Linked DNA regions of Homo sapiens: regions 1, 2, 3, 4 and 6 are each linked to region 5. Evidence: fine-mapped expression QTL. A gene starts in region 5. Each other region holds a variant in brackets. All regions are shown on one strand. Distances are between the middles of the regions.

The links. PIP is the estimated chance that this variant, and not a neighbour inherited with it, causes the effect.
Region 1: its variant is the best candidate, but not a certain one, in a credible set for the expression of MFHAS1 in monocytes (TOPMed, PIP 0.73).
Region 2: its variant is the best candidate, but not a certain one, in a credible set for the expression of MFHAS1 in whole blood (INTERVAL, PIP 0.79).
Region 3: its variant is the best candidate, but not a certain one, in a credible set for the expression of MFHAS1 in whole blood (INTERVAL, PIP 0.56).
Region 4: its variant is the best candidate, but not a certain one, in a credible set for the expression of MFHAS1 in whole blood (TOPMed, PIP 0.80).
Region 6: its variant is the best candidate, but not a certain one, in a credible set for the expression of MFHAS1 in skeletal muscle (GTEx, PIP 0.90).

What each region holds. Positions count from the first base shown.
Region 1 is chr8:8,819,303-8,824,367 of GRCh38, reverse strand. The region is part of intron 1 of MFHAS1 (multifunctional ROCO family signaling regulator 1); the gene reads left to right. Among named protein-coding and RNA genes, the nearest start is that of MFHAS1, 72 kb to the left of the region's middle. RefSeq lists an enhancer at 2,117-2,659. The variant C/G (reference allele first, on the strand shown) is at 2,553.
Region 2 is chr8:9,018,076-9,023,145 of GRCh38, reverse strand. ERI1 (exoribonuclease 1) reads right to left here. Exons shown (of 7, transcript NM_153332.4): 5 at 4,740-4,849; 6 at 2,682-2,796. Among named protein-coding and RNA genes, the nearest start is that of ERI1, 18 kb to the right of the region's middle. The variant T/C (reference allele first, on the strand shown) is at 2,144.
Region 3 is chr8:8,863,819-8,868,891 of GRCh38, reverse strand. All of the region lies in intron 1 of MFHAS1 (multifunctional ROCO family signaling regulator 1), which reads left to right. Among named protein-coding and RNA genes, the nearest start is that of MFHAS1, 27 kb to the left of the region's middle. RefSeq lists a silencer at 119-413. The variant T/G (reference allele first, on the strand shown) is at 2,106.
Region 4 is chr8:9,032,336-9,037,402 of GRCh38, reverse strand. ERI1 (exoribonuclease 1) reads right to left here. Exons shown (of 7, transcript NM_153332.4): 7 at 4,065-5,067. Among named protein-coding and RNA genes, the nearest start is that of MIR4660, 14 kb to the left of the region's middle. The variant C/A (reference allele first, on the strand shown) is at 2,316.
Region 5 is chr8:8,891,082-8,896,154 of GRCh38, reverse strand. MFHAS1 (multifunctional ROCO family signaling regulator 1) reads left to right here and starts at 2,525. Exons shown (of 3, transcript NM_004225.3): 1 at 2,525-5,073. The coding sequence starts at 3,097. It also overlaps the pseudogene RNU6-682P. RefSeq lists silencers at 2,380-2,629, 2,640-2,919, 3,030-3,299 and enhancers at 3,144-4,104, 4,105-5,064, 5,065-5,073.
Region 6 is chr8:8,802,074-8,807,143 of GRCh38, reverse strand. The region is part of intron 1 of MFHAS1 (multifunctional ROCO family signaling regulator 1); the gene reads left to right. Among named protein-coding and RNA genes, the nearest start is that of MFHAS1, 89 kb to the left of the region's middle. The variant C/T (reference allele first, on the strand shown) is at 2,550.

The DNA of each region.
Region 1 (5,065 bases), 72 kb after region 5:
GCTGGAGTGGGTAAGGACTCCGGGGTACCCTGTGTGCTTGGAGGGAGGCAGTCCTGTATTTCTTAAGATGCTTAAGAAGATGCAAGATGTGAGATGCTTAGATGATGGAAGGTGAGGAGAGATTGGCCTCCAGGCATCCTGCTCCCCGCAGAGCCCCTGAGAAGGTGGCCTTATTTATGGAGTTTGCCTGTCTGTTTACTGGCTTCTTCTCAAGGGAGCATAGAGGACCCCACTGGTCAGGTGTCAGACAAAAGAGCTGTACGGATGCATAGATTTAGTTCTGCCTCACAGGCAGGTAGCCTGAGCTCCTAGGGGGAACTGTTTTTGCTAAGTAGGGAATGAAAAGCATGTTTATTTAAGCACAAAATTAAATCTCTCCTATTTTTATATGATTTCCCGTTGTTTTCTTCCCTGTAGGGAAATCTGCTGTGATAGAGAACTGCGTAACAGGCCTTTTCTGTGAGCGCTCACTCATACATTATGCACGACGTGGCTAAGATCTTTGAAGCGCATGGAGACAGGCACATCTCTGAGAGGCGAGATTCTTTCTTTTCTCAGCCCCCACTATCTTCTGTGCTACATCAGAGATGGAGCACAGCCACCGTGGGTCTTGAAATTTCGCAGGTGATGCTCTTCTCGGTGACCTGTGGGTTCATTACCTGTGTCAAAGACTGAAGACGGGAGAATTAGGGAAGTGGTGGCCTGGGAGAACCAAGGACATGTTTGTGTGCCCTATTTAGGCGATTGTTCTACTTCATGCTAAATTTGTGAGGAGTTTTATGAAGCCTAGAAAATTAAGTAGAAAATATATTTTTACAGTATTTTAAGCTGGAACAGACTATTTAAAGCTCGAAGAGACCCTAGAGATAAACCAGTTCAGTCTCTTCCTTTTGCAGTAGAAGGGACGAGGCCCAGAGGACTCACGGTGTTTCGGGAACTTGCAGGGAGTTAGCGCAGCACCAGGATCGGAGCGCGGGGCCCCGTGTCCAGCTCCTTACTCTTTTTGTTCTGGCAGCGATGCCCACCGGGCCTTCACAGTACATTTCTCTGGATACAGAGAGAAACATTATTCATCTGAAAGCAAGGCTTCAGAAGCTGTTTTTATAATAATTTGTTAGAGCCACATAGTAACTTGCAAATAAACATTTACAGTTAATGAGAAAAATGGATACCCCTGAGAAAAACCGTTTGTAGTTACTGTGTTCTAGTCAGAGCTCTTGAGCTAATTTGAAAGGAAAGTCAGGATTCTGGCAGGAGGAGAGCTATCCCCAGATTCCAAGGATGGGGAAGAGAATCTCTGTATGGACTAGAATTCGAGACTGTCCTGTGTCCCTCTGTCTCTCCTTCCCGGTCTTCTGTCTGTGTCCTCTGTGCGGGATCCCATGCCTGGCTCTGTTACCCTCCCTTCCCGCCACCAGCCTGTCGGTACCTCCTGTCCTGATTTTCTGGTTTTCAGTCATTCCAACCCCTTCTCAGTTTCCCTGACTTGGTCCCTGTGCCCGTCTCAGTCCCCCTGACTTGGTTCCTGTCCCTGTGTCAGTCCCCCTGACTTGGTCCCTGTCCCCTTCTAAATCCCCCTGGCTTGGTTCCCTGTCACCATCTCAGTCCCCCTGACTTGGTTCCCTGTCCTCATCTCAGTCTCCCTGACTTGGTCCCTGCCCCCATCTCAGTCCCCCTGACTTGGTCCCTGTCCCCGTCTCAGTCCCCCTGACTTGGGTCCCTGTCTCCATCTCAGTCCCCCTGACTTGGGTCCCTGTCTCCATCTCATTCCCCCTGATTTGGTCCCTGTCCTCACCTCAGGCCCCCTGACTTGGGTCACTGTCTCCATCTCAATCCCCCTGACGTGATCCCTGTCCCCATCTCAGTCCCCCTGACTTGGGTCCCTGTCTCCATCTCAATCCCCCCTGACTTGGTCCCTGTCCCCATCTCAGTGCCCCTGGCGTGGTCCCCTGTCTCCCGCTCCATCCCCTGCCCCCATCTCTGTCCCTCTGCATCAGGCATGGTCACGTCTCAGTGCCATCTCACCCTCTCCCTGAGGACTCGCTCCATTTTCCTCTCCCCTCAGACCAGCTTGCTCTGCAGCTGCGCACGATGCAAATGACCGCCCCAGCCTCTCTTGGCTTCAGTCCCCCACCACAGACTAATTCTATCTCTCACCCCAATTTCAAATCCCCAGGGAGCTGTCTGATCTGCCTGCTTCAGCTCCTCTCAGCCTGCCTGGTGCTGCCGCACAGAGGAATTGGCTGCCCGTGGCCGGGTGGAGAGTCCTCGTCTTGTGTGTGGCCAGGGTCTCAAGGCCTCATGCTACACACTTGCGTATAGCATCTCGTGCAGGCTTCACCACAGTCTTACGAGGCATGCGGTGACCTTGCCCTTAGACGTGTGCACTCAGGCCTAGAGCTGTCAGAGCCATTTGTCGAGCGACCCGCTGCTAGGAGATGGCAGAGCTGGAGCCAGACCCCAAAGCCAGCGCTGCGCTGTTCTCCTTTTGACGCGGGCTTATCCACAGTTAATCAGTGATTTCCTCAGATGTCCACATGCTCCTACGGTGA[C/G]TAAACCCAGCTGTCTTTTGCACATAGTTGGAAAAGTTACTATTAGGCACCTAGACTAGGTTTGATAGCAATAGGATTTTATTAAAACCTTGATGGAAAACCTGCGTAGTATCTGCTAACATCTTTGCATGCTTGGAGGCAGAGGAGGATTTAATATACATCAAGTCTGTGTAGCAACATCAAAGGAAGATTTAAACACTGCTGGCTTTTTTGTGCGATATTTAAAAAGCACCCCCCACCTTTTAAGAAAATGTGAAGTTCTGGCATAAATCAAAGTGTGATTAATCAGTGATGATTGACTGGTATTTTCATAACCTGTGGCATTAATAACAACTTTGTATGGACATAAGAGTTGTAAGCAAATTTGGGAGGGAGGTTACTGCTTCATGCTATTCTCCATGCCGATCTTCGATCTTTGTACATACTTACTTGCATTCTGTAAAATTCGGCGTGATGAAATCCAAGAACCAAAAATGCAGGGTGGAAATAGGCTTAGTAGTAAGTGACCTTCTATTTCCACTTCCCACCTCCTTGTTAAGATTCTTTGACCTCCTGCCACAGGGGCCTTAGAGGCATCCTGTAAGCTTTGCACAGAAGCTGCTAATCCCCCGGCAGGCAGTTCAGGCAGGCAGTTCATTCCGTTTCCACCTGGCAGCTGCTCCCTCTGACACCCAAGGACTCGCAGGGAGTGGCCGTTGGACCTGCAGACCCCTGGGAACAGGCAGGGGGAAGATATGTGGAACTGAGACCCAGAGGCCTCCCCACTTCCCTGTGCTGACTCACGTAGGCTGTCATCTCTGTTGGCTTTTAAAGGAAGAGGGGTAGGAAGGACAGTGAAATTAGAAGCATTGCCAGGTCTTGCTTGAGAGCTTCTCTCTCTCACTGCTGCTATTTTTTCTTCATTAAATGTGTGATGTGGGTTTGTTCAAAGCATCCAGTGGCTCTCCACTTAGATCATTTAATTCCACGATGCAAATGGCAGCACAGCTTTGGCCTGGAATCATGCTTCGCACTTGGTCAAGGCCACCTTTAACTGCCTGGCCAGACGGCTAGAGATTTTCCCGGGGCACCCCTGGAGTTTTTCCCATCCTGACTAGAGATAATCTCAGAGCGGGAGCCAGCCCCAAGTGAGAGGGCCTCTGAAAGACCACAGGATGGGAACATGGACGTGTAGCCTCATTTCCTCAAGGGGATGCAAGGAGATTGATTAGGCAATGGGGGATTCCATGAAAAAAAAATTCATGATATTAGTCTACTTACGTAAAATTGTTTGGGTGAGCACGGGTGGAGGGGCAGGGTGGGGAAGAGAAAGACATTGAGATCAAGTGAATAAAGGAATTGGGACCAAATACCATTCTCACGCTAACCTGACTGTCAGATGAAAGAAGAGAATGTTGCAGTTATGCTTATGGCTTGATTCTGCTTGGAAGAAAAGAAATCAACACAAAAAATTCCTGATGTGTGCATGCGCTTTTGGAAAAAGGTGTAGGGAAGGGCACACAGCAGTCTAATCCTGGGGACTTGAGAAGGGGGAGCACAGCAGTCCCAACCCTGGGGACTTGGGAAGGGGGAGCATAGCAGTCTAACTCTGGGGACTTGGGAAGGGGGAGTAAGGGAAAGGATTATATTCTTTTCTTTGCACATCTTTATATTTATTTCCTTATTCAAACCAGCACTGTTAATTTTTGTAATTAAATAAATTTAGAGAAAGACTTTTTAAATGTGAGAGAGCTGTTCTGGGGGAAAAATCAGAACAAAAACTAAATTTACACTGGGATTGTTTATTTTAAGTTTTGTGTTTCATAGATAGTCTGTATAGACTGGGTGTGGTGGCTCATGCCTGCAGTCCCAACACTTTGGGAGGCCGAGGCGGGAGGATAGTTTGAACTCAGGAGTTTGAGACCAGCCTGGGTAATGTAAAGACCCCGTCTCTATCAAAAATAGAAAAAGTCAGCTGGGCATGGTGGTGCGCACCTGTGGTCTCAGAAACTCGGGAGGCTGAGGCAGAAGGATTGCTTGAGCCTGGGAGGCTGAGGCTGCAATGAGCTGTGATCATACCACCACACTCCAGCCTGGGTGACTCAAAAGGTACAAAAGGCTCTTTGGGGAAAAGGAAGTTGTCTGTTCTGTCCACAGCCATGTATTTCCCTTTCTGGAGGCAGCCACTTTGGCCAGATTCTTGGATATTCTTTTTTTTTTTTTTTTTTGTTTTGAGTTGGAGTCTTGCTCTGTCGCCTAGGCTGGAGTGCAGTGGCGTGATCTTGGCTCACTGCAAGCTCCGCCTCCCGATTCACGCCATTCTCCTGCCTCAGCCTCCCGAGTAGCTGGGACTGCAGGCACCCGCCACCATGCCCGGCTAATTTTTTGTGTTTTTAGTAGAGATGGGGTTTCACCCTGTTAGCCAGGATGGTCTCGATCTCCTGACCTCGTGATCCGCCCACCTCGGCCTCCCAAAGTGCTGGGATTACAGGCGTGAGCCACCGCACCCGGCCAATTCTTGGATATTCTTAAAG
Region 2 (5,070 bases), 130 kb before region 5:
ACATACCAAACATATCAAAGACTAAAAAACTTAAGAGACATATTAACCAACTACAAATCTGTGAACCTTATCCTGATCTGACTCAACACACAAAAGGTAAAAGAAAATATTTATGACTATTTGATGAAGGAATTACTGCTAATTTTTTAAGATGTCACAATGGTATGGTAGCTGTGTTTCTAAGAAAATGACCCTTAGCTTTTGGAGCTACGTAATGAAATTTTTACAGATCAGATAACATAATGTCTGACTTCTGCCTCAAAATAATAAGGAAGAGGAAAGTGGGTGGGGATACACATGAAACATGACTGGCCATGAGTTTCTAATTGTTGAACCTGGGTCATGAGGACTCATACCTATTTCTGTTATGTTTGAAATTTTCCATAACACAATTTTTAAAAAAATTCACAAAATGAGTTCAAAAACACAAAAAAAGATCCACAAAAGGCCAGGTGCAGTGGCTCACGCCTATAATCCCAGCACTTTGGGAGGCCGAGGCGGGCAGATCATTTGAGTCCAGGAGTTCGAGACCAGCCTCACCAACATGGCGAAACCCCGTCTCTACTGAAAATACAAAAATTAGCCAGTTGTGGTTGTGGGCGCCCGTAGTCCCAGCTACTCGGGATGCTGAGACAGGAGAACTGCTTGAACCCAAGAGACAGGGTTGCAGTGAGCCAAGATCGCACTACCGCACTCCAACCTGGGCAACAGAATGAGACTTCATCTCAAAGACAAATAAACCAAAAAACAAAATAAATTCACACAAAAAGATTATCAAATATAATCAAAGGACTAGCACCCAAAGTAAAAATCTATAGACCAGTAAAATACACAGGTAATGAAAAAACAGACTACCCAATTTTTTTTAAAACAGTCAGAAATTTAAATAAGGGGTTCGCAAAAAAGCAATCCAGATAGCTGATACCTCAATGAGATGGTATCACACACCCGTCAGATTTACAAAACATTTAAAATGTATGACAATATCAGATGCTAGCAAAAACTTACAGTAACTATAAACTCACATAGCACTGATAAGAGTGCAAACTGGTACAATTCCATTGGAAAACTATTTTTGTATTATCTAGTAATGTCAATGATGTACATATCCCATGACCCAGCAACTGCACTCTTAGGTTTTTCTTAGAAAAACGAGTGCACAGACACCAGGGGACATGCACAACAATGCTTATAAAAGTACTCTTCATGGAAGCCCCAAATAAAAACAATCCAAATGGCCAGCCAAAGTAGAACAGATAAACAAATCTGGTATAGTCACACAATGGAATTAATAGCAATAAAGTGAATGAACTGCAGTGACATACAAGACGTGGATGGATCTCAAGCATAATATTGAAAAAAAAAAAAAAACAAAAAAAACAAATAATATAGCCAGTATAATACTAATTATATCGTGCTCAAAGCCAGACAAAACTATATAATATAAGGATATACATTTAAATACTAAAGCTATAAGGAATAATAAGAAAATGATTACCATGAAAGGAAGAATTAGGGTTAACTCCAGGAGGAAGGAAGGGAGTTAAGTGGGTGGAAGTTACAAGGGTATTTGCTTTATAGCAATCGGCAAAACTCTACTTTTCTGCATGCATACTTCTCAGTTTTAAAAGACTGTTAAAACAGAAGAGTCTGTAAGGAAAAGCACCTTTTCTCATGAAACTACTTTAGAACATGCTTCTCCAAAATGAAACTGTAAAGGGAGAAAAATGACATAGTATCTAATGCATGAGAATTAAAGGAAATCCCCTAAGATGATTTTAAAAGAAGCCTGAAGAACTAACAGTTCAGATTAGAACAGGATTAAAGGCTCCAGGAAGATAGTCTGCAAGGGAAAAACAGATGAAAAAAGAAAACCTGACAGACTACCTGAGTGTTCTCAGTCATAAGAAGTGACTTACAGTTTGAATGGAGAGTAAGGGGATAAGTAAACAACCGCGGAAGTAAATTATTACATCCAGGGGAAAGTTGTGGACACTCTCCATAGTCACGGGAGTATGAACACTGAGTGCTCTGACTGAAAGGTAATAGAGCTATAGTAGGAAGATGCAGGAAGGGAAGGACAAGCAGGAGTGGTAACTTAATTGAACTCAATCTTGATCTTTCAGGGCAGGAATTCAATAGA[T/C]CGCAAACTGAAAAGTCAAGAAGTAGTATAAGCATGAAACTTAGAAATACAAAGGTAAATATTTGAAAAAAAACAAAAACAAAAACAAAAACAGAGCTTTACATAAGTTGAAAGTGTTTGCCTCAGAACAGGAACCAGTTCTGGTGAAGGCTATGGCAGAAGACTGCCATTCATTGTAAGTCTTGCAATAATATTTTAAACATTTACACGGCACACGCATATTAACTTTGATAAATGTGAAGTAAAATTAAAATCTAGTGGGGAGCATTTGCTCCATGAACAATCCACATACTGACTGCCCCTACAGTTTCAAACTTGTCAGGTATATATAGTTAACCTACTTAAATAAAGTTAACAGGTTGAATGAGAAAAAGGCTTATCTAATTTGAACATAAGGAATTTGGAATCTGAAGAGTAAGAACTAATTATATGGCTTTTTTCCATGAAAAACACCTGGAAAATTACAATCTAACGTACATGCAAATTTTAACAAATTTATCATTAAGAACCACGTAATTATTAAATATAGAAATTTTACCTTGTAAAAATTTCCATATGACTTCCGAATATTGATCCACTTTTTCGCAAAAGGAGGGTATTTGAGCCTGCTGAGTTGACACTGAATGTTCAAGAACTTACTCATATCCCAAGAACTATAAATTAAAAAAGGACAAAAAATTGATGAAATAAACGCTATGCTATTCTTACAAATGAGTATTTTAAATCATTTATTTATATATGTCAACTTTCTCATATTCAAATGTAACATCAAGCTGAGAAAATTAACCTTGCTTCCTACAAAATACTAATTCAAAATTAAGCTTTAAAAACCAAACAAAGAAGTCGGATATATTAACTTTTGTTCACAAACTAATTCCTATTAGGCTCATCTTGATTGTTTTCATGGTTCTGGGCAGGCTTCTATCTTGCTGAGTATTATGCTAAGCTTACTTTTACTGCCAGACTTAGCATGGTAAGTTGACAGCATGCTTTGAAATAAAACCAAAAACAAAAAAATGAAAGAAACAAAAGCAGCTGGTATCAAATGGTTAAAATACAATCTGTTCTGCTACAACATTTTTCTATAACACTAACCAATTTATTGTAGTTAAGGACAATACTGATTGTGTAATATGGAAATTGTGTTGGTTCCTACGTGGTTTTTCTTAGGCAAGGAGAGTCAGAATAATAGCAGTGGAAATTATAAACTTCAGCAGGAAATAAGAAAAGCCCTCAACTCAGCTGCTATACTGGGAACAGGATATAATCCTTTGTATTTTCTTATAATACTGTCAACTATATTATAAGAAAATTAAAAATAAGTGTATGTCCCCAGGACACTAGTGCTTCTGTACAATTTTCATATACTTTGACGCAACCTCACCTTCCCTGAGCTGCTTGCCTGGGCTGCCAAATTATTAATGGAGACTCTAATGATTGGTTTTTGTTAGTGCTCTTGTTACAAAATTGCATAGGTTTTGAGTGATCTGTCCCACAAAATGAGACTTTACCAGAACTGCGTATACTATACTACAGCAGAAACACCTGTATACTTTAGCAGAGCACTGCTCATTCATGTTTAAAATCAGTAATGGATTTCTAAAGAGGTCCATAAACATTTTTCCAAACTTAACAGTTATGATGTGATTAAATTCAATGCTTTTCTCCTATCACATGTGAGGATCTCCAAACCCTCTATGTTGGTGACATCTCAGGTATAGAGGATAACCTGCACAGTTTGAAACAGAAGTTGTTTAGGACGTTCTTTTCAACCTTAATGGCCTTAAGGTATCGGAGTTGCCCTGGCACAACGTCTGTCATCTATGTTTTAATCTTTCTGATCTTCCCATTTAGCTTTTCATTTAACAAATGCTTTTTGGGCATACACTTTAAGCTCAGCACTAAGGTAAGCATTATGGAAGATTATTAGGCAGCAAAAGTCCTTCTCTGAAAGAATTTTAGATTTCCTTGCAAAAGTAAGTCTTATGTATGTACACAAAGATTATATATCAGAATATATGGTCAGATGTCAACATGAATGGTATATACCATAGAAATTATAAGGTTTCAAGGAAAAAAAAGATCAATGGCGTTGTCAGGGTAAAACACAAGATGGGCTTTGAAAAATGATAAAGTTGTCGAGAAGACACTCTCAGTACAGAGGGAGGCATAAGTAACTACACAGAGAAAGGGTAAACCATGTGAATTCCTGGGCCAGTCTGACTAAAGAGGATTAATGGCAGGTGAATTAGATTAAACAGGTAGCGTGGGATGAGAGGAAAGAGGCTTCAAGGCCAAGCTCAAGAGTCTGAACTTTTTTGAGTAAGGAAGTGTCATGAAAAAACAGAGTTTTAGCAAAGTCTTTTTAGCTTTACATATTTTTAACTTTCTGTAGTGTTCTAGTCCTGTATTGGACTGTGACCACTGTTTTCTTCCTCTCTTTCATCCTTAGGTGAAAGGAAAAATACTATTCCCTGTGGGGTGAGACTCTAGGGTCTCTAATAATAGTTTGTGGTTATTCTAAAAATCAGATAAATAAGGGTATCTTTAATCTTTAAAAAGTAGATATAAAAAAATAATCTTCCTAAATACTTACCCATCTGTTAAAAGTGAGTATTTATACTTTGTTCCTAATTCCTTCAATTTCATCCAGTCAATTACTTTTTTTAGTACCTGAGGGAAGGTATCAGCTCTGTCTACCTGATCCTGAGGATATAAAAGTAAAATATACAAAAATCAGGGCTGCAGCTTCACGTAGACCTACAAAATACCCAGACCTAAGTTGGAGGGGAAGAAACAGTATGAGAAAGGCTGATACTTTAAATTCATGGTTTCCTTGGCTTAGCTCCACCTAAAGTTTCATTTTTAAGAAATTCTAAAAATTTCATAACCAAGTACTGGGACTACTTTCAACTGAAAAGTATAAT
Region 3 (5,073 bases), 27 kb after region 5:
TTTTTTTCCTCTCCCTTTTTCTCTTCCCCTAGCAAAGATTTCTTTAGAATCTGAGTGAGATATCAGAGGTGCTGTTTGCATATGAAGTAGCGATGACTATGGGTGGAAGCCAGTTGTAAGGTTGCATAGTCATTTATAACTTCTTTCTATGTTAAGGTTACTACCGACTTTATGAGAGGAGCCTCCCAGACTCAGGTGTCATGCCTGACTCATGAGTAATTCATTAGAGAGGGCCCAAGCCATGTATTTCATTGTGGGTTTGTGAGCGGCCTCATCTTCCATAAGATGCTCATTTGTTGGGCTGATCCAAGGCAAAGATCCGAGTAGTTGGGAGTAGCTCCAAATTGGGATGAGCCCAGGCCTACTGTGCATATCTGTTTGGAAGGGCACATCTGTCTACCAAGGGCTGGTTCCAGTGTATTAGCCGAGTGGCACTAGGTAATCAGTTTACAGTCAGTTTAAAAAAGTTGAGGCTATCCTTCTCGGTGATTAATTATGGCTTTTAGTTCATACTAGATTAAAAAAAATCTTTGCATCTTTGCAAGAATAATCATTAACTTAGTTTGTCTATATTATTAGCCGAAAGATACAACACAGTGCTCATGCAGTGTAGAGAAATGAGATAACATCTAGAGTTTACATGTAAGTAGCTATTTGTCAGGATATTTATTCATTGATTCTAGATTCATAAAGCAGGAGTTTCCAGAGGCCTTGCAGCAAGGAATAAGCACCTGGGAGATTCAACTGAATCCCCCTCAGAGCCTGTGCGTTGGGAACTTGGTCTAGAAAATGGATCAGGTTTGTGCGCTATACCACTTATTATAATAAATGATAAAAGTCAGTCTGGACAGAGTGCCACAGAAGTTCAGGCGAGAAAGAGGATTCTTCCAACTGAGTGGGGCCATGGAAAAACTCGAGTTCCATTTATTAGCGGTAGGAAACACATGTTGAGAATGAAGAATGGAGTTAAACAATTGGTCTTTCCCTCAGATCCCAGGGTTTTTAACCTGTTACTAAAAAAGTATAGCAATTTATGGCCAGGCACGGTGGCTCACGCCTGTAATCCCAGCACTTTGGGAGGCCGAGGTGGGCCCATCACGAGGTCAGGAGATCGAGACAATCCTGCCTAACACGGTGAAACCCCGTCTCTAGTAAAAATACAAAAAATTAGCCGGGTGTGGTGGCGGGTGCCTGTAGTCCCAGCTACTTGGGAGGCTGAGGCAGGAGAATGGCATGAACCCGGGAGGCGGAGCTTTTGGTGAGCCGAGATTGCGCCACTGCACTCCAGCCTAGGAGACAGCGAGACTCCACCTCAAAAAAAAAAAAAAGTATAGCAATTTATAATGTTTGAATTATCATTAGCTTATTGGCGTGTAATAATACTTTGCATACTTTTAAAATTCTGGGGTTGGATTAATAATAAAAGAGTAGAAACATTGTTTTTATAAAAAAAATTTTCTGTGCGACACCTATAGGCAAGTACCTATGGGCCTCCTTTTAATTTTGGACTGTTTTAGGAATGTTTTATTTTATTTTTGGTATCTTAGGAACCATAAGAAGCATACTTTCAAAAATGTGAGGGTATATTTTTAACTTTTGTTATAAAAATGTAACAAAAAGTTTATATGGTGAAGAATTTAGTGGGTTTGCATATGCTGATGACCATTGTGACTTTCATAAAACCCCACAGCCTGTGTTTAATTCCATTTCCTACTAGTACAGACTTGAAGAGCTCAGTCCATCTCCTTTATTATCTTGTTTCCTTTAATCTATATTAATGCACCTTAGCAGTATCAGAAATTTTGTTAATATATTATGTGTAGCTGAACTGTAAGCTAAAAATAGATCATACCAACCCATCTCTCTTTCTCTTTCTTTTTTTTCCCACTGTCACCTTCACATTTATTCTTAGTGACTTGCAAATGATGGGATTACACCTTAAAAATTGTCTTGTATCAGATATGTATTTCCCCATTCTCTAAAGAAGGCTAATTATGCAAGTACACGGTTCTTTCCTGATTCATGAATTCATATCACGATTTTATTTTCAGATTCCTCAAGGTAATTGCTTGTTAGACTGGTTCACAGGATGAGAGATATCCAAG[T/G]AGTCATATGAACCGTTTCCGTCCCATTCATGCCATTCTGTCTTCTGCAGAAAATAAGTGAGTCAATCACTGTTTATGAGAATGTGTAAGAGACTGGGGAGAGAGAAGGGACTCAGTGGCCATTTTGTATCACGGATCCTTTTTACTAGGGATAAGAGTGATCCTTACTGGCTGACTGCAGTGGCTCATGCCTGTAATCCCAAAACTTTGAGAGGTTGAGGTGGGAGGATCGCTTGAGCCCAGGAGTTGAAGACCAGCCTGGGCAACATGGCAAAACCCCATTTCTACAAAAAATAAAAAATTAGCTGGGCGTGGTGGTGCATGCCTGTAGTTGCAGCCGTTGGGGAGGCTGAGGTGGGAGGATTGTTTGAGCCAGGGCGGCAGAGGCTACGGTGAGCTGAGATTACGCCACCGTACTCCAGCCTAGAGGACAGTAAGACCCTGTCTCAAAAAAGAAAAAAAAAAAAACAAAAAAGAAGTGATCCTTGCTAAGTTGCCATAGATCCCTGTTCTAGGTTCCCATTCAGCGTCAGAGTTTTATCGTCTGATAAAACAGGGATCAGTTAGAGAGCTTTTCGCAGGCAAAATGACACTGATTTTACTGAACCAATGGTAAAGAGAAGTGCTCCTAGGTTCCCAGGCCCTGTTCTTCTGTATTCTTCCTGCTTAGAAAAAGAGAATAATAAAAGCACTTCAGCTAGGAGTAGAGCTTTCTAAAAATTGGCCAGCCAAATCCCCAGGGAAACCAGGATTTCAGCTTCTCTGTCATCACCTCTGTTTGAGGTTGGCATGCTTTGGCACTTTTTCCGTGGCTGCACTGTCAGGAGAGTAGGCCAAGCCGCCTGAACAAGGAGAGGTGTGGAGGACAGTCATTCTGTAGCTGCAGTAATCCCTGCCCTAGTTTTTCTGCCTTCCTGAGAGAAATAATAGACACCACTTGTTTTACATCAACCAGGCTTCTGACCTTTTTGGACTATGAAAATTAAATTCTTCTAAGACACTAAGTGTTAAATTTGGGACCCAAAAATAGTTGGACTAAGTGGCTGCCTGGTTTAATAGTGGCAACTCAGTTCAGATAATAATTACTAGAAATTTCAAAGAAGTTATAGGAGCCTCACCTTGAGTAGACTAGGATTTGACAGTTGAGTGATATACAATTGTACTTAACAGCCATTTTCTAAAATGAAGTTTTCTGGACAGTAATTCATGTCAAGTGTCATCTGTTGCTTTTCTATGTGATTCCACTTCACCAGGGCTGTCCTGGGAGGGGTCCTTGGTTGTGTTTAGCTTTCATCGAGTTAGGGTAGTAACTCCTAGTCTCCTTCCTCTCCATCCTCTGTACCTTGTGTCTCTTTTCCCATTTCTGATTTTTGTATCCAGGAGTTTCTGATTTTTGCCTTTTGAGTTTTGTTTCTTAAACTAAGTGGAGCTAGGTTTTTATGGGGAAATAATTTCTCAGCCTGTCATCTTGACAGTGAAACATTTCTTTTTTTTTTTTTTTTTTTTTTTTGAGATGGAGTCTCACTCTGTCATCCAGGGTTGAGTGCAGTGGCACAATCTTGGCTTACTGCAACCTCCAGCTCCTGGGTTCGAGCGATTCTCCTGCCTCGGCCTCCTGAGTGACTGGGATTACAGGTGCATGCCACCGTGCCCAGCTAACTTTTTGTATTTTTAGTAGAAATGGGGTTTCACCATGTTGGCCAGGCTGGTCTTGAACTGCTGACCTCAAGTGATCCACCCACCTTGCCCTCCTCAAGTGCTGGGATTACCGGCATGAGCCACCAGACCTGGCCTGAAACATGTTTTTGGTTTGTTTTTTAATCTAGGTGGAAACTAGATACCCTTTCTAGTAACTAATATGTGGTTCATACCTAAAGCCAAAAGAAATCTCAAGTAATTTTTTGGATGAGACAATTTCGGCACCATGTTATATAACTTTATGATATCATCTTATCTGAGTCCTCTCTCTCTCCCTCTCTCCTTCCCTTTCCTTTTTTCCCTAGTGCCTGTAGGTGTGAGTTTAAAGATAAAATGACTGCCAAGTGACCCCAAGTTCAAGGACTTTTATCCTGGCATGCAACTGGAAAATTCAGTTTACATGATACATTTCAAAAGTGTCTGGTGGGTAGCTGGTACAAATGATAGGAAGAGAGTAGCTAATTTTATGCTCATTGTGGTTCTGTAAGATGATGTAAATATATGAGGATTTTAGGAGAAATAAAAAGTGATCTCACTGAAACAGTTATTTGTAGATTGCATTTTGACTTGTCTGAAACACATCAAGGTTAACATAAGAATATTTAGGATATGAATTTGGTCCAAGGAACATTAAAAATATTTTTACTTGGTGATTCTGATAGGAAGACATTGTTTCTACTAATGTGGGAGGGTGGGCAAAGAGGAGGAGGAGTCGGGCAGGGCCATTTTGTTGCTTGGTGTGAATGGCATCCTTGAATCGTGCAGTGGGCGGCCCTCATGGCCAGTAGCAGCAGATTTGGTTGAGCATAGGGGCAGAAAATGGCTTTGTTTTTTTAACTTACCCTTCTGTGTTTATGTTACCAGAACACCAGAGATTTGGTTTAGGTCCTGCTGCTTGCCGCACAGAAAGCCAATCACTGCTGAGACAAGTGTTGCCAGGGAAGAAGGCTTTAATCGGGTACTGCAGCCATGGAGATGGGAGCTCAGTCTCAAATCCATCTCCCTGACCAACTAAAATTGGGGGCTTATATAGTGGGAAGGCAATGTAACTACATGCCGGTAAACAGGAATTAGGAAGGTATAAGGAAGAGGAGTTGGTCAACAGGAAGCTGGTGGTCACTGAGGCAGCCATAATGGGTGAAGGGTCTGGTGTCTCCTTGTCCAAATGCAGTGATCTGGTGAGTTTCAGCTCCTTGATATCTGGGAGCCCTGATGGTTGGTTTTCTGAGAAAGGAATTCAGATAAAACAAATGCAACTTTCTTAAGTTTT
Region 4 (5,067 bases), 140 kb before region 5:
AGGTCCGGGCTGTCTGGGAAGAAGGCTGAAATCACAGCAGGTCTTTAACAAAACAGAATCAAGAGAATAAGACTGATGGGCTAACTTCCTGGGGACAGAAGTAGGATGGTGCACATGCGACTCAACGCGAGTGTGATGGTGAGGGGAGTAACTATTACCCTAGAGCAGATGGTTACTGTAAAAGTTGGCAGACAGAAATCAGACTGTGAAGGTTCTTATATGCCAACAGAGAGCTGAGTTTTATCCCATCAGAAATGTGAAGGTTTCTGAGATCAGTGTGCAAAGCAACATTTTAGGAAGGTTTTTTATGACAGTGGTATACAGGAAGAGACAGCAAGAGAGAAGTCTGTTAAATTTTAGCAATAGTCTGTGTAGCAATGATGATAACAGAGGCTGGGGTGAGGATAAAGTGACTGGACAATAAAGGACATTGTGCTAAAAGGGGGAGGGAGGGACTATGAGTTTCATGGTTTCAATCCTATGTGACTGTGATAATCATGGTCCCACTGACAAAAATAAATCCAAAGGGAAAACAGGTCTATGTTCAAAGGTGCAGAGTCGGCAAGCAAGAATGGACACTTCAAGGGGAAGGCTCAATCGCTGCCCTCCATCAATCTGCCATCACCAGTGATGGTGTGCCACACTACATTAGCAAACAGAAAATCACAACCTTGCTCCTCTTTTGTTCTTTTACTCAATAGAAAAAAAAAATGACTTGTATTCTAAACTTGCTCTTGATCATACTATATACAGGCATACCTCAGAGATACTGCAGGTTCAGTTCCAGACCACTGCAATAAAGGGAGTATCACAATGAAGCAACTCACACAAATGTTTTGGCTCCCCAGTGCATATAAAAGTTAAATTTAAACAATAGTCTATGAAGTGTGCAAAAGCATTATGTCTAAAAAATACATATATACCTTAAAGATTAAATTTCTAGAAAAAGGTAACAATCATGAGTGTTCAGCAAGCCATAATCTTTTTGCTGGTGTAGGATCTTGCCTCAAACGTTGAGGGCTACTGAGTGATCAGGGTGGTAGGTGATGAAGATTGGAGTGGCTGTGGCAGTTTCTCAAAATGAGACAACAATGAAGTTTGCTCCATCAACTGATATTTGTGCTTTCACAAAAGATTTCTCTTTATCATGCTGTTTGATAGCATTCTATCCACAGACCTTCTTTCAAAATTAGAGGCAATCCTCTCAAACCACGCCACTGGTTTATCAATTAAGCTTATGTAATATTCTAAATCCTTTGCTGTCATTTCAAGAATGTTTACAGCATCTTCACCAGGAATAGATTCCATCTCAAGAAATCACTTTCTTTGCTTATCTGTAAGAAGTAATTCCTCAAGTTTTATCATGAGGCTGCAGCAATTCAGTCACATCTTCACTTCTAGTTCTCTTGGTATTTCCACCACATCAGCAGTGACTTCTTCCACTGAAGTCTTGGGCCCCTAAAAGTCATCCATGAGGACTGAAATCAACTTCTTGCAAATTCCTGTTAAGGTTGATATCTTTACCTCCTCTCACGAATCACAAATGCTTGTAATGGCATTCAGAATAGAATGGTGAATCCTTTCCAGAAGGTTTTCAACTGACTTTGCCTAGATCCATCAGACGAATCACTACCTATGCTAACTACAGCCTTATGAAATGTATTTATTAAATAGTAAGACTTGAAAGCCAGAACTACTACTTGATCCATGGGCTGTGGAATGGATATTGTGTTTGTAGGCATTAAAACCAACATTAATCTCCTTATACAACTCCATCAGAACTCCTGGATGACCAGATGCATTGTCAATGAGCAGTCATATTTTGAACAGATTTTTTTTTTTCCTGAGCACTAAGTCTCAACAGCAGGCTTCAAATATTCAGTAAATGATGTAGTAAACAGATGTGCTGTCATTCAGGCTTTGCCGTTCCCTTTATAGAGCACAGGCAGAGTAGATTTAGCATAAGGGCCCTAGGATTTTCAGAATGGTTAATGAACACTGACTTCAACTTAAACCAGCTACATTAGCCCTTAACAACAATCAGCCTGTCCTTTGAAGCTTTGAAGCCAAGCACTGACTTCTCTCCAGCTATCAAAGTCCTAGATGTTATCTTCTTCGAATAGGCTATTTCATCTACATTGAAAACCTGTTGTATGGTGTGGCCACCTTCATTAGTTATCTTAGCTAGATCTTAGCTAGATAACTTAGCTAGATCTTAGCTAGATAACTTGCTATAATTTCTACATCAGCACTTGCTGCTTTACCTTGCACTGTTTTATGGAGACAGCTTCTTTCTTTAAATTTCATGGACCAAT[C/A]TCTGCTGGCTTCAAATTTTTCTTCTGCAGCTTCCTTACCTCCCTCAACCCTCACAGAATATGAGACAGTTACAGTCTTGCTCTAGATTAGGCTTTGGCTTAAGGAAATGTTGCAGTTTGATTTTTTATCCACACCACTAAAACTTTCTCCATATCAGTAATAAGGCTGTTTTGCTTTCTTATCACTTGTGTGCTCACTGGAGCAGCACTTTTAATTTCCTTCAACAACTTTTCCTTTGGGTTTACAACTTTGCTAATTTGGATCAAAAGGCATAGCTTTCAGCCCGTCTTAGCTTTTGACATGCCTTCCTCTTTAAGATTAATCATTTCTAGTTTTTGATTTAAAGTGGAAGACATGTGACTCTTCCTTTCACCTGAACACTTAGAGGCCACTGTAGGCTTATTAATTGCCCTAATTTCAATATTGTGTCTCAGGGAATAGGTAGGTCTGGAGAGGGAGCGATGGGGAAAACACAGACATTTATCAATTAAGTTCGTTGTCTTATATGGGTGTGGTCTGTGGTGCCCCAAAACCACCATGATAGTAACATCAAAAGTCACTGATTACAAATCACCCTAAGAGAGATAATAATAATCAAAAAGTTTGAAATATAGGGAGAATTACCAAAATATGAGACATGAAGTGAAAGTATGCTGTTGGGAAAATGACATAAATAGACTTTCTCCACACAGGATTCACACAAACTTTCAGTATGTTAAAAAACAAAACAAAACAAAATAGTATCTGCGAAGCACATAAAGAGAAGTGCAATAAAATGAAGCATGCCTTGTGGCTCCACAATGATTGAGCAGTATTCATCCTAAAACAAATCTAATGAAATTTACCTTGAGAACATTCACTTGCAAGTAGAAAAGCAGATCTGGTTTAAAGCCTCGGGCATCCGCCCCTTACCCAAGTCTTGGTAAGGAATCCAGAAAAACAAGTACTTCCAACTCTTCATCAGTCAAACTTAAGCCCTTTAGCCTCTGTGTCATTATAAACTCAAGACACTAACATTTCTAATCTCAAGAACATGGAGGAAATTTTAAAGCAAAAATCGTTCTCCTTCTCCACTTATCCCCATCTCCGAAAAAACCTTACAGCTGGTCACATTAGAAGTTAACAGTATTTTATATTGTTTCATTCAAAGAATGAACATCAAATTACCTCCTGATTTGCAACATTTAGTACAATCGCATTGAAAATGTCTAGTTTAAACCATACAGGAAGATGTTTATTCTACCTAGGACAACCTACCTGTTCCTGGAATATCAGGTTAAGCCAAAGTCTACAACGGGAGGCAGCATAGCACAGAGATAAAGAGCAAGGCTCAAGCCATACTGCCAGAATCTACAGCTCCCACTACTTAAACTTTGGCAACTTAACCGCTCTGGACCTCAACTTTCCCATCTGTAAACTGCAGAGAATGCCTCTCTCCATCACCAGATTCTTACTAAACAATGGAGTAAAGTACTTAACAGTGCTCCATAAATGTCTGATGCAAGTATCATTGTACCTTAACATTCAGCTCTACGCTCTCATCACAGTCGCATTTCTTGTTTGTTGATGGAACTTATATATTGCATTACATAAGGGAGGTAAGGGTAGGCAAACTTTCTCCATAAAGGGCCAGACAGTAGTATTTTTTGGCCTTGCTGGCCAGATGGTGCCACTGATGCAGCTATTCAACTCTGCCATTGTAGCACAAAAGTGGTCAGAGATGACATGAAAACAAATGAGAATGGTAGTTCTTTCCAAAACTTTATTTAGAGAAACTAAAATTTCGTAATTTTCGTATTATACAAAATATTATTTTGAGCCATTAACAAAAGGGAATATAAAAACCATAGTTTGTAGGCCATACAAAAATAGGCAGCAGCCAGATTTGGCCCATGGGTGGTAGTTTGCTGACCCCTGCTCTAGATTAACAAATTTACGGGCTTTGGAAGCTTTGTGGGGCAAGGAGGCTTGATATACAGGTTGGTGGTGCAGAACAAAGAGGAAATTTCTAAGTATAATAGAAAAAAGATGTAATGCTGTCCTTCATGTATCAACGCTGGATTCAACTATGTGCAAAACATTTTATCATATGTCGCTGGAATCAAAGATGCAGAAGTCACAGTCTCTGGTCTCGAGGAGCATATACTTCTCCATGGTAGCTTAGAAATGGAAAGTCTTCCTTCAAAGTACAATACATCCTTCTCAGACTTTGACAATGCACCCGTGCGTGCTCATCTGTGAGGCAGGTAGTTTCTTTGGCAACTACAGCTGAGGCCAAACATGCATTATTATCTTGACCACCTGTGCTTCTTCCCCTCCCCAGTAATCATACCAGTTTTTCTCCTGGTCTCCAAATTATTCTGTTTTGCATTATCATTTTGGGGATAATACTTGGGATGATATACTAAAAGTCAACTGGTCACATCTTTTTAAAAATTACCATTTTAATTAGTCTTCAGAGATACCCTCTCTCTCTTAATAGGTAACATGCTTGTGACGCCTGTGTTTTTTTGTTTCAATCCAGGCAGAAACTTCTCCCTAGGAGGCAGGATAAATGGATCTATCTCAAGGCAACAAAGACACATCACAAAAACATTTTTTTCAGAGCAAATGTTAAATACTTGATCCAACAGAACACAAATAAAGATAAAATGTAATGCTCTATTATATACTTCAGTTGGTTATAAAGATTGCGGATTTGAAAAAAATCAGCAGAAATCCACTATGTCAATGTCAGAGCATATGAAGCAT
Region 5 (5,073 bases):
AACTCTCGTGCCTCAGCCTCCTGAGTAGCTGGGGACTAAAGGTGCGCACCACTATGCCTGGCTAATTTTTGTATTTTTAGTAGAGATGGGGTTTTGACATGTTGGCCAGGCTGGTCTTGAGCTCCTAACCTCAACTGATCCACCACCTCGGCCTCCCAAAGTGCTGAGATTACAGGCATGAGATGCCATGTCCGGCCATTTTTCTTTTTTAAAATAATTTTTTAAATGAAAATATTATTAAATAAATGAACACCATGAATTTGCATGTCATCTTTGTGCAGGGCCATGCTAATCCTCTCTGTATTTTTCCAATTTTAGTATATGTGCTGCTGAAGCAAGCACAATTTTCATTTTTTTCAATTGATTTCAGCTTCTGCAGGAGGAAGTATAATTTTCTGATGGCTTCTAAAGAGGAACAGTTAGCAGTTATTGAGATATAATCATGTAAGGTGGTGTAGGATGGTGATGCCTACTCCAGTCTCCTTACCCAGGCTGAGTTCATATTTTTGTTAGAAGAAGCTGCAGGATGGAGAATTTGGGGTCTGGCTCAAGAACAGTGTGAGTACAGGTGATGATCACAGGGGAATACATTCCACACGGGGAGTTAGCAGTCCTGCCTCTACTCTACTTTGATGGCTGATTGAGAAGTCACTTACTTTGAGCCCATTTCCTCCTCTGTGGGGGAAAAAAAGGGTCAGCCTAGATAACTCAGAATATTTGTTGTAAAATTGACTGTCTCTGGGAGGGAGTGTGGGTGGGGCTACCCTGAGCCATCTGAACTCTCGGAAGTCCTTCAGAGTGAACACAGATCAGCTCTTGCTGTTCACTTACTCACATTTCATCTGTGGTGTCAGAGCCTCAGGGACCCAGCAGAACTGGGGAACATCCTCCAGTTACAGCATGTACTACCTGCAGCCTGATAACCATCACTGGGGTGGATTTCCAGCCTCAGATGTTCAGGTGCTCTTTTTGGAAACACACACTTCTCACGTTACTGCACCAAATATGGGTCCCCAAATGACAGCCATAGCGCATGTCGGGGAGAGCTGCAGTGGGTCAAGTGATGCCTTTAACCAACTGAACGCAGTTTTCGGTCCCTGAAAACTATTTGCTTCCTTATCAATCAACCTGAAGGGAATGATGGAGGTGACACTGGGAGTCTTGGTAGGTTTCCAGACTTTCATAAGTTCGGGAGAAATTATTGACTTAGCATAGATGTGAGCTCAAAGAAACATTTCCTAACAGCAATAAAAATAAGCATTAGAGTTGAACAATGGACTGTGACTGTTTCCCAAAATAGCTGTTTTCTTGAGTCCGCAGAACAACAGGTACTGTATTAATGGGGATACAGTATTTGTTTCACAGCGTTGTTGTGAAGATAAACGGGATACCCCAGATAAACAGCTTGTGTCCCCCCCATCTTAACAACCCTCCTTTAGGCTGGCGGGCCACCTGCTCAAAAGCCTTCCCCAGGGGGGTTAAAACCGTCTTTTAGTAGTTCTGGTACGGGTGGGCTGGGGGAGATCCTCTAAAGCCAGTGCGACCTTGACCCCAGCCAATGTCCAGGCTCTTGACACATCCAGAGAATGAGTTCAAGGACAACTCAGAAAATAGTGACAATATGCAGATTTATTGCAAAGGGAAAAGTACACACCCAGGAAAAGGGATTGTGGAGAGGGTCACTCACAACGGGGCTTGGGGCTGCTACCTTTATGGGTTTCTTTAACCAAGGGGTGAAATATTCATGAAAATTCCTGGAAAAGTGTGGAGATTTTTCGGGACTGTGGTGCCACCCATTTTTACTTCAAATATGGGTGTCCCCGGAATTGTCATGGCACTGGTGTGACTTAGGATGTTAAAGAGCGTATAATGGAGGCCTAGGAGAAACCTAGGTCAAATCCAGGACCACGTCGGGTCCAGCCGGTCTTAGCCAGCTTGGTACACACCCTGGTTTTCAGGGTCTTATCAGCCCATAGCCTCCAGTCAAGTGAAACTGCTGCCTGGTATTTTTTATTCTCCTCTGACCAGCCTGCATTACTCCTGTCCCATGTTCAACACGAAATAGGGCCTCAGGAAATATTTACCAAATGAATGAATGGTTGCCTGTTCTAATTTTGTTTAACCACACTCTTGTCCTAAGCTTCTATGATGATACCCAGGGCCCCCGAGTTGTGCCAGTTCCACTACGGCGTGGATGCAAGGCGAGCGGCAGGGGAGCAGGTAAAGGATGAGTAAGGGAAGCCGGCGGATCCGACGCATTAGAGAACAAGAAAAAGAAATCCTTAGAGACTGGGGGCCAACAAAGAGCCAGGCGCGGGCGAACCCACCAGGGGGGCCCCGGAGCCCCACATCCGCCGCTGGGACGACCTCCCCGCCCAGCATGGTCCGGGGCGCGGACCCGGCCCCGCGCCAGGCGCCCCCGGCCCCGCACCCGGCGCCCTCCGCAGCTCCCGCCCCCGGGGCGGTGCCGGGAAAACGCGGCGCCTCCGCCGGTCACGTGGGGGCCGCTCCGGCGGGCGGCGCTGCCGCTTCCCAATCGCGCCCTCCCAGCGCCGGGGACGCGGCGCCCGCGCTCCCGCCCGAGCCCGGGGAAACGGAGACAAGGAGGCGCCGCCGCCCCCTCCCCGCGGCTGCGCCCCAGCCCTGCGCCCGCAGCATGCCCGCCGCCGGGCCGAGCGCCGCCCTCCCCCAGGAGCTCGAGGAGGCGACGCCGCTGCCGGCCGCGGGACCGCGGCTGCGAGGGTAGCGGGGCCGGAGCCGGGCCCCCCGAGGCGCCGCGCGGCGGGCGGAGAGGGAGGAGGAGCAGGCATCCTCCGCGGCGCGCGGGCGGCGGCCCTGCTGCCCGGCGCGCCCATGGCCCGGCCGCAGGGAGAATGCAAGCTGCTCTCCACGCGCTCGGCGTCCCCCGGAGCCGCTCGCGTCGCCGCCGCCCCCTAGCCGCCAGCGCTCGGCCGCTGGCTGCGCTAGGACCCGCGGCCGCCGGCCGCCGAGCGCGGGAGGGCAGGCAGGGGCAGGAGCCGGAGGGCCCGGGGCGCGGCGCGGCATGTAGCTGCGGGCTCCCGCGTCCGCGTGAGGCTGTCGGCCCGGGGCCCCGCCATGGCTGGGATGGACAGTGGCAACCTGAAGACCGCGAGGCTGTGGCGGGACGCCGCCCTGCGTGCCAGGAAGCTGCGGAGCAACCTGCGCCAGCTCACGCTTACCGCCGCCGGGGCCTGCCCCGGGGCCGGGGCCGACGCGCTCGAGTCCCCCGCCTCCCCCCAGCTCGTGCTGCCGGCCAACCTCGGGGACATTGAGGCACTGAACCTGGGGAACAACGGCCTGGAGGAGGTACCCGAGGGGCTGGGGTCGGCGCTGGGCAGCCTGCGCGTCCTGGTCCTGCGCAGGAACCGCTTCGCCCGGCTGCCCCCGGCGGTGGCCGAGCTCGGCCACCACCTCACCGAGCTGGACGTGAGCCACAACCGGCTGACCGCCCTGGGCGCGGAGGTGGTGAGTGCTCTGAGGGAGCTGCGGAAGCTCAACCTCAGCCACAACCAGCTGCCCGCCCTGCCCGCCCAGCTGGGCGCTCTCGCTCACCTGGAGGAGCTGGATGTCAGCTTTAACCGGCTGGCGCACCTGCCTGACTCCCTCTCCTGCCTCTCCCGCCTGCGCACCCTGGACGTGGATCACAACCAGCTCACTGCCTTCCCCCGGCAGCTGCTGCAGCTGGTGGCCCTGGAGGAGCTGGACGTGTCCAGCAACCGGCTGCGGGGCCTGCCTGAGGATATCAGTGCCCTGCGTGCCCTCAAGATCCTCTGGCTGAGTGGGGCCGAGCTTGGCACGCTGCCCGCCGGCTTCTGCGAGCTGGCCAGTTTGGAGAGCCTCATGCTAGACAACAACGGGCTGCAGGCTCTGCCCGCCCAGTTCAGCTGCCTGCAGCGGCTCAAAATGCTCAACCTCTCCTCCAACCTCTTCGAGGAGTTCCCTGCCGCGCTGCTGCCCCTGGCTGGTCTGGAGGAGCTCTACCTTAGTCGCAACCAGCTCACCTCGGTGCCATCCCTTATCTCGGGCCTGGGCCGGCTTCTCACCTTGTGGCTGGATAATAACCGCATCCGCTACCTGCCGGACTCCATCGTGGAGCTGACCGGCCTGGAGGAGCTCGTGCTGCAGGGGAACCAGATCGCGGTGCTGCCCGACCACTTTGGCCAGCTCTCCCGGGTGGGTTTGTGGAAGATCAAAGACAACCCACTGATCCAGCCCCCCTACGAGGTCTGCATGAAGGGGATCCCCTACATCGCAGCCTACCAGAAGGAACTGGCTCATTCCCAGCCGGCGGTGCAGCCCCGGCTCAAGCTGCTCCTGATGGGGCATAAGGCTGCAGGAAAGACTTTGCTGCGCCACTGCCTCACCGAGGAGAGAGTGGAGGGATGCCCAGGAGGAGGGGACAAGGAGAAGTGCTACCCACCGTCACCTCCCCCTGTGAGCAAGGGCATCGAGGTGACCAGCTGGACGGCCGATGCCTCCCGGGGCCTGCGGTTCATCGTGTATGACTTAGCTGGGGATGAAAGTTATGAGGTGATCCAGCCCTTCTTCCTGTCCCCAGGGGCCCTATACGTGCTGGTGGTCAACTTGGCCACCTATGAGCCTCGCCACTTTCCTACCACCGTGGGCTCCTTCTTGCATCGGGTCGGGGCGAGAGTGCCCCACGCGGTGGTGTGCATCGTGGGCACCCACGCAGACCTGTGCGGAGAGCGTGAGCTGGAGGAGAAATGTCTGGACATTCACCGCCAGATCGCCCTGCAGGAGAAGCACGACGCGGAGGGACTGAGCCGCTTGGCCAAGGTGGTGGACGAGGCACTGGCCCGGGACTTCGAGCTGCGCTCTGCCAGCCCCCACGCAGCCTACTATGGCGTTTCGGACAAGAACCTTCGACGGCGCAAGGCCCATTTTCAATACCTGCTCAACCACCGGCTGCAGATCCTCTCCCCCGTGTTGCCTGTTAGCTGCAGGGACCCGCGCCACTTACGACGCCTTCGGGACAAGTTGCTGTCAGTTGCTGAGCACCGAGAGATCTTCCCCAACTTACACAGAGTACTG
Region 6 (5,070 bases), 89 kb after region 5:
AAGGTTAGAGGGACCTTCATTCTGAGGCTTACTTCAGGGGCCGCTCAGCTTTCAAAAGCGCCCAGCGTGCTCAGGTGCCATATTTTGAGGAATGATTTTCTATACCCCCAACATCATAAAACCACCTCATTGAAGCTTCAAGTGGTGCCTCATGGTTCCTTTCTGTGTTTTCTTTTTTTTTTTGAGACAGAGTCTGGCTGTGTCCCCAGGGCTGTAGTGCAGTGGCACAATCTCGGCTCTCTGCAACCTCTGCCTCCCGGGTTCAAGCGATTCTCCTGCCTCAGCCTCCCAAGTTGCTGGGATTACAGATGTGTACCACCTCGCCTGGCTAATTTTTGTATGTTTAGTAGAGATGGGGTTTCAACATGTTGGCTAGGCTGGCCTCGAACTCCTGACCTCAAGTGATCTGCCAGCCTTGGCCTCCCAAAGTGCTGGGATTACAGGCCTGGGTCACCGGACCCGGCCCCTTTCTAGGATTTTTAGAAATTCCAGAGAAATCTCATACAAAATCTAGAGAAAGCATCTATTGTTCTTGTGTTATTGCAATTTGTATAGTGTCAGGGTTAATCTGGGACTGATGAAGATGCTGAGAACAGTAAGTTTAAAGAACTTTGATATAGAACAATATTTTACTTTGCTATTGTTCTGTCTTTTAGAACCAAAAATAAAGCCCTTCTTAGTAGGTGACTCAGCTTCCTGCAACCTCGCTGGGGAAATTTCTCCAAATATTAATGCATGCCACGTAAGCCAGGTTCACTTGCTGGCCCTGGATGTTTATTCTGGCCCCCAGTTATATTTATTTTGTGTCTGGTAGAGCCTCACACTTCAAAGTGGAATGCTCCTGAAGTTTCTACCTGGCCTCTCATCCCAGTGTTGTAATGGACACTTGGGGAAGGAAACTCCCCAGGGACTCTGGAGATGCCAAGACTCTGACGCTTTTGCAGCAGGTGGGCGTCCCGTGAGGAAGAGTGGCTTGGAGGAGGGGAGATGGGCTCTCCTGTTGCAGGTATTAGAAACAGAGAAAGCAGGAGGAAGAGGAATTGCAAATAACCAGGCATGAGGAAGACGTAGGGAACAATGCTACAGAGGATTGGATTTGTATGAATTATTTTTAAAACAAAACAAAACAAACAAACCCCCAAACGGCCAGGCACAGTGGCTCACGCCTGTAATCCCAGCACTTTGGGAGGCCAAGGTGGGCGGGTCACCTGAGGTCACAGGAGTTAGAGACCAGTCTGGCCAACATGGCAAAACCCCATCTCTACTAAAAATACAAAAATTAGCCAGTCATGGTGGTGCGCGCCTGTAATCCCAGCTATTTGGGAGTCTGAGGCAGGAGAATCTCTTGAACCCGGAAGGTGGAGGTTGTAGTGAGCCAAGATCATGCCACTGCACTCCAGCCTGGGCAACAGAGTGAGACTCTGTCTCAAAAAAGAAAGCAAAACAAAACAAAAAACCCTCCAAACAAAAGGTTGTCATGAAAGGGAAATGCAGTTGACCCTTGAACACACACGAGTTTGAACTGTGCCGGTCCACTTACAGAAGGATTTTCTTCCACTTCTGCCACCCCTGAGACAACCAGACCAACCCCTCCTCTTCCCCCTCCTCCCCAGCCTCCTCAATGAACAGACAATGATGAGGAAGACCTTTATGATGGTCTACTTCCACTTAATGAATAGTAAATATATTCTCTCTCAAGATTGTCTCAATAGCATTTTCTTTTTTCTAGCTTATTTTATTGTAAGAATACAGCACATGCTATATGTGACACACAAAATATCTGTTAATCAGCTGATTACATTATTGGTAAGGCTTCCAGTCAACAGTAGGCTTTTTGTAGTTAAGTTCTGGGGGTGGTCAGAAATGATACGTGGATTTTTGACTGCTTGGGGTGTTGATTGTTCAAGGGTCAACTATATAAGCTTGTAATGTGAGGGAAGAGACTAAATTCTGGTAGAGATTTGAAAAATAGTAGCAGTTTTTTCCCCTTGGCTTTCTGTGGTTGAACGTTTACCAAATGCATTGGAAGGGCCGTTGTGATCTGAGGCCTCAGCTTTTTGATCTAGAAGAGACCTGACTGATGATCCCTCAAGGGGCCCTTGGACCAACTGCAGCTCTTCTTGGTTTAGCAAACCTGAGATCATTTAGTCATCCCCTTCTCCCTCCTATCTTTCAAACCAAAAAATAATTTTAACAAAGCTTTATGTAATTAGCAAGCAAACATTACTGTCAGGACGATCGTCTTCTGCCAGGAGTTGGGCTAAACAAGGAAAAGCTGAGGTCATGGGCTCCAGGTGGAGCACCTGCCATGAAAGGAAAACTGAAAGGCGCCCGTCATCCGTGCCCAGTGTGTGGGCCTGGCACGGCTTCCCTGGCGTTATTCATTGGGAGAATCTGAGAACCATTGTGTGAGTCGCAGAAGTAATCAAGAGTGTGGCCTTTTTTCTTCCTTCTGCCTATAACTATCACCACTTTGGAGGATGCTTGGAAGAAGTGGAAGAAGCCAAGTGCTGACACTGAGTTTGTTTAGTGTTGCCTAGTGACCAGGC[C/T]ATGAATACTCACTGAAGATAGGTGCTGAGGGCTTTCTGATTTAAGGGCATCTCTGAGAGGCCCCAACTGGCCTGGTTTATTTACCCTACCGATTGTACTCTGTGACTGCTAAGACTTCACAAATGGTTTCCAAAGCTTCAAGACGCTGAAGGGTGTTTATGAATGTTGTTTTTTTGTTTGTTTGTTTTTTGTTTATTTTATTTTATTGAAGTTTCAGCATTCAATATCAAAACCGGACTTGAGAATTCCACAAATGCCTGAAAATGGAAATTTCCTTACATTGTTAAATTGCCCAGAACTCAGTGGATTCCTACATTTTGAAGAGTTGCAGAGATGTGTGCTGAAAATGAAAACGGTTCTAGGAGAGGGTCATAATTTTTGATGGTGTAAGTTTTTGTAGCTGTCGTTGGAACCATACCTTAGGATATATTCAATTATCAAGTGAGCCTATGAGTTTGAGTCGTTTTGAAAAGGAATGATATCTGTGGGGCACTGGTTCCAGGACCCCCATGGGTACCAAAGTCTTTGGATGCTCAAGTCCCTGATATCCAGTGGCATGGTATTTGCACATAACCTACGAACATCCTCCCGGATGCTTTATTTTATTTTAGTTTAGTTTTCTGAGACAGAGTCTCACTCTGTCGCCCAGGCTGGAGTGCAATGGCACAGTCTCGGCTTACTGAAACCTCTGCCTCCTGGATTCCAGTGATTCTCCTGCCTCAGCTTCTGGAGTAGCTGAGATTACAGGCATGTGCCACGATGCCCCGCTAATTTTTGTTTTTTTAGTAGAGCCGAGGTTCCACCAGGTTGGCCAGGCTGGTCTCTAATTCCTGACCTCAGGTGATTTGCCTGCCTCGGCCTCCCAAAGTGCTGGGATTACAGGTGTGAGCCACTGCTCCCAGCCTCCTCCCTTACTTTAAATCATCTCTAGGTTACCTATAATAACTAATACAATACAAATGTTATGTAAATAGTTGTTATACTATTTTGTTTAGGGAATAATGACAAGAAAAAGGTCTATACATGTTCAGTACAGATGGAATTTAGTTTTCTTTTTCTTTCTTTTTTTTTTTTTTTGAGACAGGGTCTTGCTCTGTCGCCCAGGCTGGAGTGCAGTGGTGCGATTTCGGCTCACTGCAACCTCTGCCTCTCGGGTTCAAGCGATTCTTCTGCCTCAGCCTCCCAGGTAGCTGGGATTACAGGTGCCTACCACCATCCCTGGCTAATTTTCATCTTTTTAGTAGAGAATGGGGGTTTCACCATGTTGGCCAGGCTGGTCTTGAACTCCTGACCTCAAATGATCTGCCCCCACCCCTCGGCCTCCCAAAGTGCTGGTATTACAGGCATGAGCCACCACGTCCAGCCCAGGTGCAGTTTAAAAACAATTTTTTCGACCTGCAGTTGGTTGAATCCGTGGATGCAAAACTCACTGATAAGGAGGGCTAACTCTGTAATTGAGCCAAGAGCAAACCTTGTTCACAGGAAGAATGCAACATCCCTACAGTTTTGGGGAACCACTCTTTGAATCCCCAAAACCCCTTAAGAGTATATGTGGCTTAGTGGTAGAATATACCTGTGGGTACCCCAGCTGACTTGTTAGTGGCTATGCAGGAAGATTGTTGCCAAATCTACCGATAGCCTGCATACCTTGGGTAAGTCTCTTGCAAGTTCAGCAGCAACTCAGCCCCTTTAAGGATGTTCCACCTGCCTTCCCCATGAATTCAGCATCCCGTGTGGGTGGCCTTCCAGGGACCACAGCTGTTGCCTCATCATGTTTCCCAGAAAGTTCTGTAGCCTGCTTTCCGCACAGCCTGCTCCTTCACCCCCCAAGATAGCTTCCCAGGGAATTTGTTGGCACCCAGAGGACAGTCCCCTGCCTGCTAGCTTTGGCCAGCTGATCATGGACAGTCTGGCCTAGGGCAGTCCAGCCAGCTTCTCCACCATGCAAGGAGCTGCTCCATACCCTACCCTTCATTCCTTGTAACTGGGTAGCTTATAAGGAACAGAAATCTGTTTCTCACAGTGTGGGAGGTTGGTAAGTCCAAGATCAAGGCACCAGCAGATTTGGTATCTGGTGAGGGGTTTCTCATTCACATATGGTGTCTTCTCGCCATGTCCTCACATGCGCTTGTATGAACTCTTTGTGTATTTAGAAGAGTAAGCCTTTAGAGAATCTTCTCGTGACTACAGTAATAGGGTCAAGTACTTACTAGGTGCCAGATACAGTGTTCAGTATGTTTCGTGTATGTGTTACCTAATTTAAACATCATGCTATCCTTGACACAGGATATCTGGTAGTGATGAGTTTAGTCAGTCCTACTGTCAGAGTTCAGCACAGCCACTTCTTCCTGTGACCATTGGCAAACTACCTCTTGCATCTGAGCCTCAATTTCCTCTTCTGTATATAATGAGGATAATAATTGTCCCTCCCTTCTGGTGTTGTTGTGAAGACTGAGATGGTACATAAACAACATTAAGCCAGTAAAAAGTGCTCGCTCAATGTCAGTTGCTGCTGTGGTC